Regions from separate parts of the Homo sapiens genome. Here region 2 is linked to region 1. Evidence: fine-mapped expression QTL. A gene starts in region 1. The other region holds a variant in brackets. All regions are shown on one strand. Distances are between the middles of the regions. Region 1 holds the start of GINS3 (GINS complex subunit 3). Region 2 overlaps LINC02137 (long intergenic non-protein coding RNA 2137).

The links. PIP is the estimated chance that this variant, and not a neighbour inherited with it, causes the effect.
Region 2: its variant is fine-mapped to the expression of GINS3 in skeletal muscle (GTEx, PIP 0.94).

Annotation. Positions count from the first base shown.
Region 1 is chr16:58,388,034-58,396,966 of GRCh38, reverse strand. GINS3 (GINS complex subunit 3) reads right to left here and starts at 4,496. Exons shown (of 3, transcript NM_022770.4): 1 at 4,180-4,496. The coding sequence starts at 4,365. RefSeq lists enhancers at 1,029-1,674, 3,703-4,279, 4,184-4,673, 4,280-4,857.
Region 2 is chr16:58,422,946-58,431,878 of GRCh38, reverse strand. All of the region lies in intron 1 of LINC02137 (long intergenic non-protein coding RNA 2137), which reads right to left. Among named protein-coding and RNA genes, the nearest start is that of LINC02137, 6.1 kb to the right of the region's middle. RefSeq lists silencers at 5,445-5,524, 5,595-5,694. The variant T/C (reference allele first, on the strand shown) is at 4,667.

The sequences.
Region 1 (8,933 bases):
CGGCCACCCCTACTGGGATGTGAGGAGCACCTCTGCCCGGCCAGCCGCCCCGTCCGGGAAGGAGGTGGGGGGGTCAGCCCCCCGCCCGGCCAGCCGCCCCGTCCGGGAGGTGAGGGGCGCCTCTGCCCGGCCGCCCCTACTGGGAAGTGAGGAGCCCCTCTGCCCGGCCAGCCGCCCTGTCCGGGAAGGAGGTGGGGGGGTCAGCCCCCCGCCCGGCCAGCCGCCCCGTCCGGGAGGGAGGTGGGGAGGTCAGCCCCCCGCCCGGCCAGCCGCCCCGTCCGGGAGGGAGGTCGGGGGGTCAGCCCACCGCCCGGCCAGCCGCCCCGTCCGGGAAGGGAGGTGGGGGGATCAGCCCCCCGCCCGGCCAGCCGCCCCGTCCGGGAGGGAGGTGGGGGGGATCAGCCCCCGCCCGACCAGCCGCCCCGTCCGGGAGGGAGGTGGGGGGGTCAGCCCCCGCCCGGCCAGCCTCCCCGTCCGGGAGGTGAGGGGCGCCTCTGCCCGGCCGCCCCTACTGGGAAGTGAGGAGCCCCTCTGCCCAGCCAGCCGCCCCGTCCGGGAGGGAGGTGGGGGGGTCAGCCCCCTGCCCGGCCAGCCGCCCCATCCGGGAGGTGAGGGGCGCCTCTGCCCGGCCGCCCCTACTGGTAAGTGAGGAGCCCCTCTGCCCGGCCAGCCGCCCCGTCCGGGAGGGAGGTGGGGGAGTCAGCCCCCCACCCGGCCAGCCGCCCCGTCTGGGAGGTGAGGGGCGCCTCTGCCCGGCCGCCCCTACTGGTAAGTGAGGAGCCCCTCTGCCCGGCCAGCCGCCCCGTCCAAGAGGGAGGTGGGGGGGTCAGCCCCCCACCCAGCCAGCCGCCCCGTCCGGGAGGGAGGTGGGGGAGTCAGCCCCCCGCCCGGCCAGCCGCCCCGTCCGGGAGGTGAGGGGCGCCTCTGCCCGGCCGCCCCTACTGGAAAGTGAGGAGCCCCTCTGCCCAGCCAGCCGCCCTGTCCGGGAGGGAGGTGGGGGGGCCAGCCCCCCGCCCAGCCAGCCGCCCCGTCCGGGAGGTGAGGGGCACCTCTGCCCGGCCGCCCCTACTGGGAAGTGAGGAGCCCCTCTGCCCGGCCACCACCCCGTCTGGGAGGTGTACTCAACAGCTCATTGAGAACGGGCCAGGATGACAATGGCGGCTTTGTGGAATAGAAAGGGGGGAAAGGTGGGGAAAAGATTGAGAAATCGGATGGTTGCTGTGTCTGTGTAGAAACAAGTAGACGTGGGAGACTTTTCATTTTGTTCTGTACTAAGAAAAATTCTTCTGCCTTGGGATCCTGTTGATCTGTGACCTTACCCCCAACCCTGTGCTCTCTGAAACATATGCTGTGTCCACTCAGGGGTTGAATGGATTAAGGGTGGTGCAAGATGTGCTTTGTTAAACAGATGCTTGAAGGCAGCATGCTCGTTAAGAGTCATCACCACTCCCTAATCTCAAGTACCCAGGGACACAAACACTGCGGAAGGCCGCAGGGTCCTCTGCCTAGGAAAACCAGAGACCTTTGTTCACTTGTTTATCTGCTTGACCTTCCCTCCACTATTGTCCTGTGACCCTGCCAAATCCCCCTTTGCGAGAAACACCCAAGAATGATCAATTAAAAAAAAAATATATATATATATATACAAATATTACAGAAGAATTTCAAATGTACAAATAGAAAAAAAAAAAAAAGAAAATTTAGACAAAAAAAAAATACAAAAATTAGCTGGACATGGTGGCATGTACCTGCAATACCAGCCACATAGGTGGCTGAGGTGGGAGGATCTCTGGAGCCTGGGAGGTCAAGGCTGCAGTGAGCCATATCACACCACTGCACTCCAGCCTGGGCAACAGAGCAAAACCCTGTCTCAAAAAAAAAAAAAAAAAATTAGATAAAATGGTCAAAGTTTTAGTTAAAAACCAAATATACCAAAACTAACACAAGAAGAAATCAAGTCTGAATAATCCTATAAATGAAATTAAATGTCATACAAACCTTCCTACACAAATCTCCCATGCAGAAGGATTCTAAAGATTTAATGTAGACACTCTGCACTCAAAGAAGTGGAACATAACTCCCTACTCCTTCAGTGTGACAGTGATAATGACTTCCATCCAAAGAGTACAGTATGAAAAGGTGGAGAAACCTAATGAACATTACCTCTGCCAAGGTTCAAATGAACAGTACAAAGTCCTGTTGATAGTAGGCACCCTTAATATGTGATGAAAATGGCACTTTACCTCTGTGGTCTTCCTCCCTAAAGCTGATAATCAAGTCTAATGCTGAGAAAAAAAGAATAAAAAACAAAAACAAAGAAGGCTGGGCGAGGTGGCTTACGCCTGTAATCCCAGTACTTTGGGAGGCTGAGTTGGGTGGATCACTTGAAGTCAGGAGTTCCAGACCAGCCTGGCCAACCTGGTGAAACCTCATCTCTACTAAAAATACAAAAATTGGCTGGGTGTGGTGGTGGGCGCCTGTAATCTCAGCTACTTGGGAGGCTGAGGCAGAATTGCTTGAACCCAGGAGGTGGAGGAGGCTGCAGTGAGCTGAGATTATGCCACTGCACTCTGGCCTAGATGACAGGGTAACTCCGTGTCAAAAAAACAAACAAAAAAACAAAACCAAAAACAAAACTACCCCCAAACCAAAGATTTCCAACTGAGGAACATTTTACAAAATACCTGACCACCACTCCACAAAACCGTCGAGGTCATTAGAACAAGGAGGTCTGATTAATTGTCACAACCAAGAGAAGGCTAAGGAAACATGTCTACTAAATGCAGTGTGGTATCCTAGGTGGAATCCTAGAATAGAAAAAGGGCATTAACTAAAAACTAAGGAAATATGAATTAAGTATGGGCAGCATAGCGCCATGTTTACCAGTGTGTATGGGAACGAAATCCTCATCTGCTAGGATGAAGTCAACAGATAATGTCTACATTAAAAAAAACAACCCAACAAGGTAAGTTTAAGAATATTATTTAGAAATATGAAGATGAATCTTGAAGACACCACTAAAAAAGGTACATGAGCCCTGTGGACTTGGAGGGGGAAGTGGGAAAAGGAAGGCAGGACCTGCTATTTTTTTTCTTATAAATCTTTTGGTACTATTTGACTTTTTTTTTTTTTTTTTTTGAGATGGAGTCTCACTCTGTCGCCAGGCTGGAGTGCAGTGGCACAGTCTCGGCTCACTGCAACCTCTGCCTCCTGGGTTCAAGAAATTCTCCTGCCTCAGCCTCCAGAGTAGCTGAGATTACAGGCGCCGGCCACCACACCCAGCTTTCTAGTAGAGATGGGGTTTCACCATGTTGGCCAGGATGGTCTGGATCTCTTGACCTCGTGATCCGCCCGCCTCAGCCTCCCAAAGTGCTGGGATTACAGGCGTGAGCCACCGCATCCGGCCTATTTGACTTTTAAAACGTTGGTTATGTATTACTTTGATAAAAATTAACTTGAAACAAACAGACCAAACAATAAACATCGTTCTATACAAAACTTAGGTGAAACAGGATATCCAAATTAATCATTACAAGCCATGTTCCTGGGACAATTTTATATTTGAAGCCATATGGCCTTGGGTTCCGAATCCCAGCTCACCACTAACTGAAGCCCTGGCCAAGTGACCCAGCCTTTCTGGTTGCTGAAGGATTAAAGGGAAAAGCTTACTCCCCACACCCAACCATGCTGCCACTAAGTAAGCCTCAGTAGGGCTTACTGATCCTGTCATCATTATGGAGGAATGAATTTAGCAACTTGGGGTTCCTACTTATCACATGCTCTTACAGAACCCAAAGCTGTTTTAAGGCAAACATGATCAGAACTCTAATTCTTAAGTATTCAGCTGGAGCCAATCTTTAAGCATTCAACACACGTTGCATGGGGTAGGGGGAAGACACTAATTTGGACAGTTTCAAAAAAGAAATCAATGTTGGAGGCTGCCTGGCGACCTAGGATAAATGTAGTTTCACCACAGATGGCGAACAAGAAGTCTGGAGACCACCCCGAGCGCGAAGGGACCCCCGCGGAGTTTCCGAGAAGTCGTTAGCGCCTTCGGCCCTGGCTCCTCGAAAACTACAAATCCCAAAGGGCAGCGCGCCCCGATGCGGCGTCCCAGGGCCGAGGGGCCCGCCGGGAGCTGCAGTCTTTCCGGGCAGGACCCCGCACCCAAAGGCTCACCTGTGGGACCGCGTTGTCAGTCTCGGCGCCTGCGCTCCGCTCCAGGAAGAAAGCGCCAAGGCGAGGCATGGCGGTCTCCGTGCGCACCGGCAGCTTCTCGTGGGACATCAGGATGTCGTCCAAAGAAAGAAAGTTCTCCTCAGGCCCCAGCGCACCCGACTCCACTCGGAAATAAGCCTCTGACATGGCGGCCACTTGAGCTTCTCCGCTTCCACTCGCGTGATTCGGAGGAGCCTCAGGAGTTAGGGGTGTACAAGACGGGGAAGCGGAGACTGGGCAGGATGGTTGGGGTCAGGAAAGTGGATTGAAACTCGTTTCCCGCGCCCGGGGACGCATCAGACAGGAGCAGTCAATTCGGGCGGTACCGCCCAGGCAGAAGCAATCGATCAAGTCTGCAGATTTAGAGCAGCGGGACACGGCTGGGGAGCGGTAGGTGGGGGCGCCGGAAGTTCTCTTCCCTCCGCTTGCTGCACGGTGTGGGAACGTTACGAAGAAGCTGGAACGCTCGTTGAAGCTCCTGGACCCATTTGTACTGGATTGTGTTCATGTGATCCTTAACTATTTATATGAAATTAAAAACACTTTGCAACACTTTTAGGGGTTTAAAATAAAAGCATCTTGTGCCCTTCACTCCAGGCCTAAGTCCGACCCTTTCCTACAGTTTTTTTCACTATGCAACTCCGTTAATCTTAGTATTTGAAAGAAATGTTAAACAAACAAAAACTTCCAGCACTATCCCCAGCGAGTTATTATGGTCTAGATGATGAACTAGTGTGTTGTATTTTGTTAGTATTTTGGTGGGGGTTGGACGGGGTGGGTAGAGGGGTGGAGCACTAGACTGCACATGGCTTGCTAAGGTTGTGAGTATACTTCAGGGTGTCTTAGCTCATCATCAACTGACAATCTCCTTTTGTGGCTCTGAATTTAAATCCCTAAAAATGGAAATCCAATTGGTCCAGTTTATTGATTGGTCCAGGTACGCCACAATGGTCATAGATCTCCAGCCACCCTGTAGATGGGGGTGCCTGTGTTGGGTGCGATCACTATCCAGTGACCAGGGGAAGGACCATGGTCGCATAGTACCAGGTTTGGTGGCTCTCCTCAGCCAGGGCTATGGGTGGCGGCATATTGTTGAGAGATGCACTACAGAACTTACTTCGTCTAGAGCATTTCTGGGGCTACTGGAGCCGGGAGTAAAGGGTGTGTGTGAAGGGAGGTGTGTATTAACCATGGATTTTAGTTTCTGTTTTCTGTATTTTATGATGCTTTGACATCTTGGGGCCTTGGGGACCTGGGGAGGAATTGCCCCTTTCAGAGTTAGCTAATTCCTAGAGATAGCAAACAACTTGCTTGTGAACACCCCTTTCATTTACAAACCAACCAACCCAAGCCTATATCCCCACACCATCTTTATCCATCTCACACACCAATATTTTCCCTGCCCCAAGTCACTGTAATAAACCACCCCATGGCCAAGTACCAGACAACTAAAATTCACCTCTATATCCCAGAGCTTGCCAACATTATTCAAATTATTCAATCCTAAGCTTGTTCAGACTTCCCTTCCCTGCTTCGCCCATTCCTTCCCACGGCAATAAAGGCTCTGGGCTTTCTCCTCGCTCTCTCTACCTCCTCATTGACCCTAATACTTTCTCGTGTGGCCGTAGGCACAGCCCCTTCTCTTGAGAACTATAATAAAATTTTCAAAGGCATTGGCCACTAACTCATTGATTGTCATCACCCAGTCACCTTTATAAATGAAATTCTGAGGACAATGAAAACAAGGTGCAGTGGGGTGGAAAGGAATGGCCAAACTGTGGAAAATCTTGGTACCATTCTAAGGAGTTAGGCCATTCCATAGAAAATGGGAGGAAAATGTAAGGCAAATAATAACATAAATCTGGGCTTCAGGAAGAGAATTCCAGCAGTAGATAAAGAAGAGAGAGATTAGATGCTTGGAAGCTGTTCAGTGGGCAGTATTTGGCAACCAATTGGATATAGGAAGTGAAGTATAGTGAGTAGTCAAAAGATTCAAGTTTTGAACGTGGCTGACCAGGTGGATGGACATGTCATGAATAGATACACAGAACACAGGAATAGGGGCAGCTGGAGGGAAGGGATGAGTTCAGTTTGGGACACATGGTGTCCAAGAGCTACTAGACAGGAAGGTCTGCAGCCCAGTGGAGAAAGCAGCCTAGAAGCTTTAGAGAGGAGGCACACTGAGAGGCAGTTATATGAAGGTTTTTTCCTTTTTCATATTTTAAATGTTCAGTTTGTGATACAGTCCAATGTAAAAATAAACACAATCTGCAGTGATAATTTAGAATTTCTCTGATGACATGGAATATATGGTACTGGATGTAGTTTGAGACAGAAATATAATTTGGCTAATTGAAGGCAATGTTATTTACTGCCAAGGAGAGTAAGCTATTTTTTATGCTGATATAATTAAGATAGATGCATACTGATTTATTGATGCCAAAGAAAGGCATTATTTTTGTACAGAGACCACAATACTGGCTCCAAACTCAAATACCACTATTATTTTAATAATACAGTAACAGGCCAATGTTTAACATAAAATCAGATTGCCTTGTTTGTCTTACTTAATGTCTTGGCTCATCATGAAACTATCATTGTGTATATATTGTTCTATTTAAACTGTCCTCTCCTTGAACTAATAAACAAGTGAATAAATCAGAAAAAGGTGAAATTAGTGAATGTTTGAGCTTATGATGCTGAACTGCATCAATTCATTTAACAAAAGTGGCATGTGGTTTTCAAGCATAGATATGTGTTAATAGCTTAAATCCTAAGAACCAGGAGTATTTCTGTTCCCTGAGAAAGCTGTGTTCCTTGGCACCCAGCCAACCAATCAATGTACCAGTATTATGCTGAACAGAATTGCATTATACTGATAATATTCACAGTATATTTGGTATATTTACAATATACAAAATTTAGTATTCTGAAAAGTGTCTGCTGGATTCTTGAAAACAGAGTATTTTTTTCATTGTAATCCTTTCAAGATTTCAGAATCATAGAACTACAGTGTTTTAGAACTTAGAACAAGTGTTTTGGTGAACAGGGCAGGGGCCTCTTTAGCTTTTATGACTTGCCCTCAAAAGTCATAGCCTCCAAAGAACACACAGGCTTTAGATGAGCAAAACCTCAAGCAGTTTTACGTCTGTTCTTTTGAATACCAGTGCTTTCTAAATTTCTTTCATTGAGTGGGGAGGTTGTGGTGCAAGTGACAGAAATGCAAATCTGGGGGTGGGGAGAAAAAGAAGAAATATGAAAAACTGTACACATGGTTCATTGAAAGAAAAAGAAAGAAAAAAGAAATGTATTGGGCGCCATCCTTCCAGTTGCTTGGTCAGGTCAAAATTTGGGGGTTTTCCTTGATCTCCTCCCCTAACCCTTACACTTTGTAATGGCCCATCAGCTAAATGGCCCATCAGCAAATGTTGACTTAACATTCATATTTCTAGAATCTGACCATTTCTCATCATTCTGGTTTAAGCCACCATCATCTCTTGCTTGGATTTTTGCATTAGCTCTCTAGTCTTCTTGCTTCTGCCCATGACCTCCCTATTGTTCCTTAAGCATCCCAGACACACTCGGTCCTCAGTGCTTTGCCTTGTTTGTTCCACTACCTGAATTGTGTTTCTCTTGGATTTCCACATGGCTTGTCCCTTTCAGGTCTTTACTTAAAAGTCACTGTCTCGATGAGGTCTTCCCTGGCCGCCCTATCTAAAATTTTAACTATTTAACAACAATTTTAATGACTCACACACTTGATATCCCCTGCTATGGTTTGACTGTATCCCCCAAAATTCATGCATTGGAAACTTAATCCCCAATACAATAATGTTGGGATGTGAGTCCTAATGGGAGGTGTTTAGATCATGAGGGCTCTACCCTCAAGAATGGATTAATGCCATTATAGAAAGGGATTGGAGGAGTGGGTTCTCTCTCTACACATGCCATGTGAGGACACAGAATTTGTCCCATTGGCCCTTCTGACTTCCACCATGTGAGGACAGCAAGAAGGCCCTCATCAGACGCTGGTGCCTTGATCTTGGACTTCCCAGCCTCCAGAATTATAAGAGAATAAATTTCTGTTCTTTAGAAATTACCCAGTCTCAGCTATTCTGTTACAGCAGCACAGAATGGACTAAGACACCCCGTTTTCCCTTCAGTACTGATCAGTCTCTAACTATATATTTTACTTATCTTGTTTATTTTACTTTATTATTTTTCTTTTGAGAAGGAGTTTCTCTCTTGTTGCCCAGGCTGGAGTGCAATGGCACAATCTCTGCTCACTGCAACCTCCACCTCCAGGGTTCAAGTGATTCTCCTGCCTCAGCTTCCCGAGTAGCTGGGATTACAGGCATCAGCCACCAAGCCCCGCTAACTTGTATTTTTAGTAGAGACGGGGTTTCACCATGTTGGCCAGGCTGGTCTCGAACTCCTGACCTCAAGTGATCTGCCCACCTCGGCCTCCCAAAGTGCTGGCATTACAGGTGTGAGCCACCTTGCCCGTCCTTTTATCTTGTTTATTGTCTGTCACCCCTACTAAAACATTAGCTCCATGAGGGTGGGGATATTTTTTAGTCTCTTTTTCACTGCTATATCCCCGCTGCCTAGTATGTATTAGGCACTTTGTAAATATTTATTGAGTGATTTAGTGTCTCTTTATTTAGAGCAGTGATATTAAATTTCCTTTAAAACATTAAGTAAAAGTTTTAAGT
Region 2 (8,933 bases), 35 kb before region 1:
CAGGCAGCAAGGCCCTGGACATGGTGCAGCCTCGTTCCCCAAGGCTGAGAGCTGCAAGCCCGAGAGCTGCCTGGGAGGCCAGTCAGTAAGGGGCACCATGACATATTGGAAATGCCATGAGAAGGAGGCAACCATATGAATTAATCAGAGCTCTTCTCAGGGAAAGCCGTGTGTGGGGTAGGGAGGGGTGCTTTGGTGAGCCTCTTGGAGTGAGGGAGGAAAGATGGCAAGGATGTGAGTAAGTAGTCATGACAATTGCTTGCTGGACCCTATGGCAGGTGGCTGAAGAACGCCAGGGCTTCTGTTTTGCTGAGTTAGGGGCTCAGGACAGTTGAGGAGAGGCTGGACCTTGTACCAGCCCCTCCTTCTGCAAGCTCTGACTCAGGGACAGCCTCTTACATGCCCATTAAACATCTGGCCCAGGGATACTAGTTTCAGGGTTGCCTGTCGAGGTACTCCGCAGTATCACCAGGCTCTGGCTAAAGGAACCAGTGTCTCTGGGCCTTTGTTACCAGCTTCATTCTGTCTCCTGGTAGAAGGTGCTTGTTATGAGTTGAACTGCATCTCTAAAATATATGTTGAAGTCCTGGTGTGGTGGCTCATGCCTGTAATATCAGCACTTTGGGAGGCTGAGGTGGGTGGATCACCTGAGGTCAGGAGTTCAAGACCAACCTGGCCAACATGGTGAAACGCTGTCTCAACTAAAAATACAAAAATTAGCCAGGCACAATGGCGCATGCCTGTAGCCCCAGCTACTCGGGAGGCTGAGGCTGGAGAATTGCTTGAACCTGGGGGGTGGAGGTTGCAGTGAGCTGAGATCACACCACTGCACTCCAGCCTGGGTGACAGAATGAGAATCCATCTCAATAAATAAATAAATAATAAAAAATATATGTTGAAGTCCTCACCCCCATATCAGTAAATGTGACTTTATTTTGGGAATAGGAATTTTGCAGATGTCATCAATTCAAGAAGAGCTCATTAGGGTGGGCTCTAATCCAATATGACTGGTGTCTATAAAAGGGAAAATTTGGCCACAGAGACAGCCATGCACAGAACGAAGAGAGCACGGTGACACACAGCAGAAGACCGTGTGTGACGATGGAGGCAGAGATCAGACTGACGCAGCTGCGGCCAAGGAAACCACCAGAAATTAGGAAGAGGCAAGGAAGGATTCTCCCCTAGAGCCTTCAGAGGGAGCGTGGCCCTGCTGACACCTTGATTTTGGATTTCTAGCCCCCAGAACTGTGAGAGAATAAATCGCTGTTGTTTTAAGCCACCTAGTTTGTGGTGTTTTGTTACGACAGCCACAGGAAAGGAATCCAGTGCTTCTGACACAAGAGTCGGGGAGCATTGTCCAGAAGCGTTCCTGTCTGGTAACGCACCTGCCATTGGCCAGAGTAAAGCCTGCACACAGAGCCCGTCCATGAGGAGGTTCTACAATGCACAGCCTGGTAAATTCTGGAGCCGATGACCCAGCCTCGGTTCCTGTCTGTAAAAGGAGGGGCCGGGATGGAATTAGCCCTCTTCAAATTCTAACTTGTTTCAGTTTTGTAAGACCTCCTATTCCTAGTCAGGACATAAAGACCCAAGGGACTGTCAACCATTGAGAGCTTGCTTGCCCTATACTGGGCGGGGTCCTAGGGGACTGATGGGGGCGTCTGTCTCATGGGAATGCAGCCTGTGGGCTCCCAGGACACCTCCTCTACCTGCACTGGAGGAAGCTGGCAGCATCCAAGTGATATTTTGGTGGCTTGGCTGCTCTGGAACTAATGACAAAATAGAATTCCCAACATTAAACCAGTCCCTGCTGAGCTGGACTGTCCTATGGAGCTTTCCTGTATAAATATCCCTTCTGATCAAGGTGCGGTGGCTCACACCTGTAATCCCAGCACTTTGGGAGGCCGAGGCAGGCGGATCGTTTGAGGTCAGGAGTTTGAGACCAGCCTGGGCAACATGGTGAAACCCTGTTTCAACAACAACAACAACAACAAAAATTAGCTGTGTGCCTGTAGTCCCAGCTACTTGAGAGGCTAAGGTGGGAGGATCACTTGAGCCCAGGAGGCCGAAGCTGCAGTGAGCCAAGATCGTGCCACTGCATTCCAGCCTGGACGACAGAGTGAGACCCTGTTTCAAAAAAATAATAAAAAATAAAAAATAAATATCACTTCTTAGGCGTTAAAATCCCTGAGGTTGAGCCATTTCTGATATGGAGGCTTTTACCCTCTCTATTATTTATGATGTTATTTCTATTCACTTTCTTTTTCCCTATGAGATTTAAGGGCCAAATCCACCTGCTCTTTCCATTCTCCAAAAACTCATGGAAATGAAATGGCAACAAAGAACTACTCAGTAATTTGACACTGAAGATTCTCATCTCTCCCCATTTTACTTAGACAATGTGAAATTTAGGAGGGATAAAAGTAAAGTTCTGCCCCAATGTCAAAAACAAACCAATGGCACGAGAATAGGACAGCAGAGGCGTGACTGAAGACTGAAGCGCTCAGGTCATTTCTAGCTGAATGAGCACAGCTTAATGTGCAGTTCCCAAGGATGCTGATCAAACCCAGCAGAATGCTTACTATGCACGGGTCAGCAGTGTGTGGACAGGCAGGTCGTTCTGGGATTGACATTTTGAGAAGGTCATAGAAATATTAGACAGCAGCTGGAGGGCAGTGAGCGGGATGGAAACCGCTGTGTGTATGAGTGATGGTGCATGAATTTAGAAAATGAATTTAGTCTTTGAGCCAGTGCTTTGGTCTGAAGGTTTACATCTCCCCCAGCTGTCGTGACAAATTCATATCACCAAAGTGATGGTATTAGGAAGTGGGGTGCTTTGGGAGGTGATGAGGCAGAGCCCTCATGGAGGAGGTCACAGAGAGCTAACTAACCGCTTCCACCATGGGAGGACACAGCCAGAAAGTGCCATCTATGAACTAGGAAACAGCCCTCACCAGACAAGGAATTATTGTCATCTTGATCTTGGACATCCCAGCCTCTAGAACTGTCAAATGTAAATTTCTGCTCTTTATAAGCCACCCAGGGTATGGTGTTTTTTATAGCAGCCTGAACAGACTAAGATGCCAGCAATTTCATTTCTAGGTCTCTGGCTCAGTTTGCATCTTATTGTGGCGATAACAAATCACAATAACGAACTGGGCAGGCTAAGGAGCACAAATTCATAACCTCATAGTTCTGGAGGACAGAAGTCCAATGGGTTGGCAAGGCCACAATCCTGGAGGCTACAGGGAAGACTTCATTTCCTCGCCTTTTCCAGCTTCTAGAGGCCTCCTTTGGCTTGTAGTCCTTTCAACAATGGCATCACTCTGGCCTCTGCTTCTGTCACTGCATCTCCTTCTTCCCTTCTGCTTCTGCATCACATGGCCTGCTCTGTGACTCTCTTGCCTCTCTCTTACAAGGACCCTTATGATTATAATGGGCTTACCCCACAATCCAGGATCACCTCCCCCCACCTACCGCAAGAGCCTTAATTTAAGCACGTCTGCAAGTCTCTTGTCATGCAAGGTAACAAATTCACAGGTTCTGAGCATTAGCATGTGGGCATCTTTGGAAGGCCATTATTCTGTCCTCTACACTTGCCTACAGAATACACAAGTGTGCAAGGATGTAGGAACAATCATCTCAAACAATGAAAACACAGAGACAGCCTAACATCTGACAACAGGGTTCTGGTTGGATAATGACGCAGCCATTCTATGGAATATCACACAGCCATAAAAAGATGGAGGTAGGTGACATGGAAGGATGTCCACGATGTATTATTTATTTGTTTATTTATTTTGAGACAGGGTCTTACTCTGTTGCCCAGGCTGGAGTGCAGTGGCGTGATCTTGGCTCACTGCAACCTCTCCCTCCTGGGTTCAAGCGATTCTCCCACCTCAGCCTCCCGGGCAGCTGGGATTACAGACTTATGCCACCAAACCCAGCTAATTTTTGTATTTTTTGAAAGAGACGGGGTTTCACCATGTTGGCCAGGCTGATTTCGAACCCCTGACCTCGAGTGATCCACCTGACTCAGCTTTCCAAAGTGCTGGGATTACAGGCTTGAGCCACTGTGTCCGGCCCATGATGTATTTTTGAATAAGAGATAATTTTCAGAAATTCATAATTTATTTGTTCAAGAAATGCTTTCAATGCCTACTATGTGCCAGGAGCTGAGAACACACCAGTAAGTTAAACAGGAAGAATTCATATTCACTTTCTAAAAACTGTATACAGAAATATGTGTATGCATGGGGGAGAAAAGTCTTACCTGGAAAGTAAATGGTAAGTTGTTAATAGTGATTCTCAGGAGAGGAAGAGTGGGGCATGGAGATAGTGAGGATTTGCTAGGTTTATTTTGATGTTTTCATATGGTTTTATCTTTTCAACAAGCACTTGTTATTTCTGCTAAAAACGAAATTGAACTAAGGTACAGTTATCAAGACAAATTATTATGTGAACTCTAACTTCTTGATGATAAAGCTGTACCAATCTGCAAAAGAGAAAGAAGGAAGGAAAGAAGAAGAGAGGGAAGGAAGGAGAGAGAATGGAGACAAAGAAAAGGGGAAAGGAAAGGAGGAGAAAAAGAACAAGCTGATAAGTGTTAACTTGGAGAAGGGAAGTCTTGAGGGGCACTTTGCCAAGGCTCTTGTGGTTCAGAGTG[T/C]CCCTCCGTCCCCTGCAGGAACTGGCAGCTCCTCCAGATATATTTCTTTCTGTCCTCTCTTTGGGCACCTGGCCCTGTGCCTGTGCACAGTAGGTGATCAGTGACATATTGTTGACAAGCAAAGCAACAGATGGAAATGCTGGTAATAGTGGAGAAGCCACTTCATCAAGCCAGGGCGCATTTTTGACCCCCTAAGCCATCAGGCACATTTACCAGCCTCAATTTTTTCTTTTCTTTTCTTTTTTTTTTTTGAGAAACGGTCTCGTTCTGTTATCCAGGCTGGACAGCAGTGGTGCCATCATAGCTCACTGCAGCCTCATCCTTCCAGGCTCAAGCGATCTTCCCACCTCAGCATCCCGAGTAGCTGGGACCACAACCCCAGCCTTCATACTATACCAATATTTGCTTCCTTTCTTTTTTTTCTTTTTTTTTTTTTTTTTTTTTTTGAGACAGAGTCTCATTCTGTTGCCCAGGCTGGAGTGCAGTGGTGTGGTCTTGGCTCACTGAAACCTCCAGTTCTCAGAGTCAAGCAATTCTTCTGCCTCAGCCTCCCAAGTAGCTGGGATTACAGGCACCTGCCACCAAACCCGGCTAAATTTTATATTTTTAGTAGAAACGGGGTTTTGCCATTAGCCAGGCTGGTCTCCAATTCCTGACCTCAAGTGACCCACCCTCCTCAGCCTCCCAAAGTGCTGGAATTACAGGTGTGAGCCACCTTACCTGGCCCTCCCCTCATTTATAACCATTTCAGGTCAAACTCTGGTCCTTCCCAAGTCCCTGGAACTTCCTAGTTTCTTCAAGGCACAGATTCTGCTGTTTGGGGAAGTGCGTGGAAATTCTAGCTCACTTATTTCAGCCACAGTGGTCCGCCAGATGAACCTGTGGTTTGCTACTTCCTCACCCTGAACTGTAATCTCCGAGCTGGCCTTTCTGCCCTCTGCATGTGTCTCTGAGACTGAGGCTTTGTGGTGGGACGTGTGGCAGGAAGAGGAGGGATGAGGCCTTGGGCACGGGTACCCTCTATCATGGGCACTGTGATCTCAGCCCTACATTCCCCTGATAGACACTGCCTCGGGTTGCATGCCTGGCAGATGGTTTTTCTGAGAACACCACCCAGTAACAAACAAAACAGGTGTGTGTCTTTTCATTTTACTCTTGGTTCTTAGTGTTTTAGGAAAAAAGTATCTGGATTTGAGTATCTGAAATATTCGCATGTTTTACTGAGAAAACAAGGAACCTCTGATTTTCTTGGGAAACAATGAGAGTCGTCACTTCCTTTTAGTGCTTTTAAGCACAAGTTGAAACAAGGAAAACACAATTTTGATTAGTTCTCATTGTCTTTTTGAATGCCTGCTTCACCCTTCCTAGAGCTACAGTGGTATGAAATTAACACTGCTCCCTCCCAGCACTTTGGGAGGCCAAGACGGGTGGATCATTGGAAGTCAGGAGTTCGAGACCAGCCTGGCCAACGTGGCGAAACCCCGTCTTTACCCAAAATACAAAAATTAGCCATGTCTAGTGGTGTATGCCTTTAAGTCCCAGCTACTTGGGAGGCTGAGGCACCAGAAATGCTTGAACCTGGAAGATGGAGGTTACAGTGAGCCGAGATCGTGCCAGTGCGCTCGAGCCTGGGCAACACAGCAACACTCTGTCTCAAACAAACAAAAAAAGTGTAGCTCGATTCAACCCACCAGGCCCTCCATGACATGTCCCACCCCTTCGCTGCTCTATCCTCTTCTCCTCCCATCCTCCCCCCTCCACTCAGGCAAGTTCCTGCCTCAGGACCTTTGCACATGCTATTCCCTCTGCCTGGAACACTCTCCCCTCAGGCGTCTGCATGTTTCCCTCCCTCCTTCAAGTCTTTGTGCTCCAATGTCACCTTCTCAGGGAAGCCCCCCGACCACCCTCTGTAGAACTGCAGCCCCCACCCTGTCTCAGCCCTCCTAAGCCCAGCCCTGCTTTATTTTCCTCCATAGCACTTGTCACCTCCCAATAGATCACATTTTCAGTTTGACTGTCTACTCCCTTTCTAATGGAAACTCCAGGAGGGCAAGGATTTTTGTGCATTTTCTTTACCACTGTTAACCAGTCCTAGAACCATCATTGAATCTGAGGCTTTAGAGAAGAGTTTTGCATCATGTATCCAAAATCTTATAAACATGGCCAGGCTCAGTGGCTCACGTCTATAATCCCAGAACTTTGGGAGGCCGAGGCGGGTGGATCATTTGAGGTCAGGGATTCGAGACCAGCCTGGCCAACATGGTGAAACCCCGTTTCTACTAAATACAAAAAAAAAAAAAAAATAGTGGGGCATGGTGGCGCATGCCTGTAATCCCAGCTACTCAGGAGGCTGAGGCAGGAGAATCACTTGAACCCAGGAGGCAGAGGTTGCAGTGAGCTGAGATTGCGCCACTGCACTCCAGCCTGGGCAACAGAGTGAGACTCTGTCTCAAACAAACAAACAAAAAAAAAACCAAAACCAAATCTCATAAACATGCTCATGATTCCACCCAGCTATTCTACATCTAGGAATTTATCCTTTGGAAGTAATCACAGATGTGCACAAAGATATGGTTAGAAATGTCACAAGGGCAAAACACTGGAAATAATGAGAGCTGGCATTTAATTACCACTTACTGTGTGTAGACCTTGTTGCAAACATTTTATGTGTATGAACTTATTTAAACTTCACAGCAACCCTAGAACCTGCTGATTATCGTCTGTATTTTACAAGTGAAGAAACAGGCGGAGGGTTTGAAGAGTATGTAGTAAAGCCAGGATTCAAAGTTGTGTTTCTTGTGTCTGAATCAAGAGCCCATACTCTTTTTATTTTCGAGAGAGTTTTGCTCTGTTGCCCAGGCTGGAGTGCAGGGGCGCAATCCCAGCTCACTGCAACTTCTGCCTCCGGGTTCAAGCAATTTTCCTGCCTCAGCCTCCTGAGTAGCTGGGATTACAGGTGCCTGCCACCACGCCCAGCTAATTTTTGTATTTTTAGTACAGATGAGGTTTCACCATGTTGGCCAGGCTGGTCTCGAACTCCTGGCCTCATGTGATGCACCCGCCTCAGCTTTATCAGATTCTCAAAGACCTCCAGGAACCAGGGTTGTAGAATAATTTTCCTACATAAGCAAAGTTAGGAATTGTCAATGCTGCTTTTAGCATAGTCTTAAAAAAATTTTTTACCTTCCTTCCTTCCACATAAGCTTCCCTTTTCTTGTCCCTAAATGATGTTAAGAATCTGGAATGTCACCATAGATGTATCTTTAGGCCAGGTGCAGTGGCTCATGCCTGTAATCCCAGCTTTTTGGGAGGCTGAGATGGGAGGACTGCTTGAGGCCAGGAGTTCAAGACCAACCTGGTCAACCTAGTGAGAGCCCATCTTTACAAAACAAAACAAAATCCAAGAATCTTTAATGACTTGGAAAGAGCTTTGTTGCATATAGTTAACTGCAAAAGGCAGGTTACTAAAGAGTCTACGTTCTGACCACATTTTCATTAAAAATTTATCTCTACCTATATGCATGGTAAAATGACTCAAATTGACTATGTATGTTAATATCGCCACTTCTAGGTAATGAAATTCTGGGTGTTTTAAAACTTATTTTCTGGTCTTGTTTGTATTCATTACATGTTTACAGGAATGTTACTTTTGTCATTAAATATACTTTTTGTTTTTAGAAAAAGGCAGACTTTGGGCAGAAAATTTGGTAGTCCCTATCAGAATTTTAAGAGATGTGGGTCTTGCTATGTTGCCCAGACTGGTCTCGAACTCTAGCAGTCCTCCATCTCTGCCTCCCAAAGTGCTGGCATTATAGGCATGAGCCACCGCGCCCGGCCCCCTATCAGAATTTTAAATGTACTTACTCTATGCTCCATCAATTCCACCTTTCCAGAAGTCTGCACTACAGAAATCCTTGCACATGCGGCTGCATGTAAGTCCTGTGACGTTCACCGTAACGTTGTGAAAATTTATGAACAGCCCAAATCCTTCAGAGAAGTTGAGTGGTTAAATAGAATATGATCTTTCCCTACTCTGAAAACCTCTGTGGTTGTTAAACAAGAATAAGGTAGATAGATCTCCGAGATATTGTTAGGTAAAAAAGGGAGGGCACAGAACAGAATGTATAATAGGATCCAACCTACATAAAGGACTACATGTGAGCATGAAGGCGTTGAAAGGAACTGGAGGGAAGCCATCTGTTTGTTGATGTTGTTACCTCCCGGAGCTGGGTGTGGGTGTGGGAGGCGATGGTGAAGGGGACTTGTT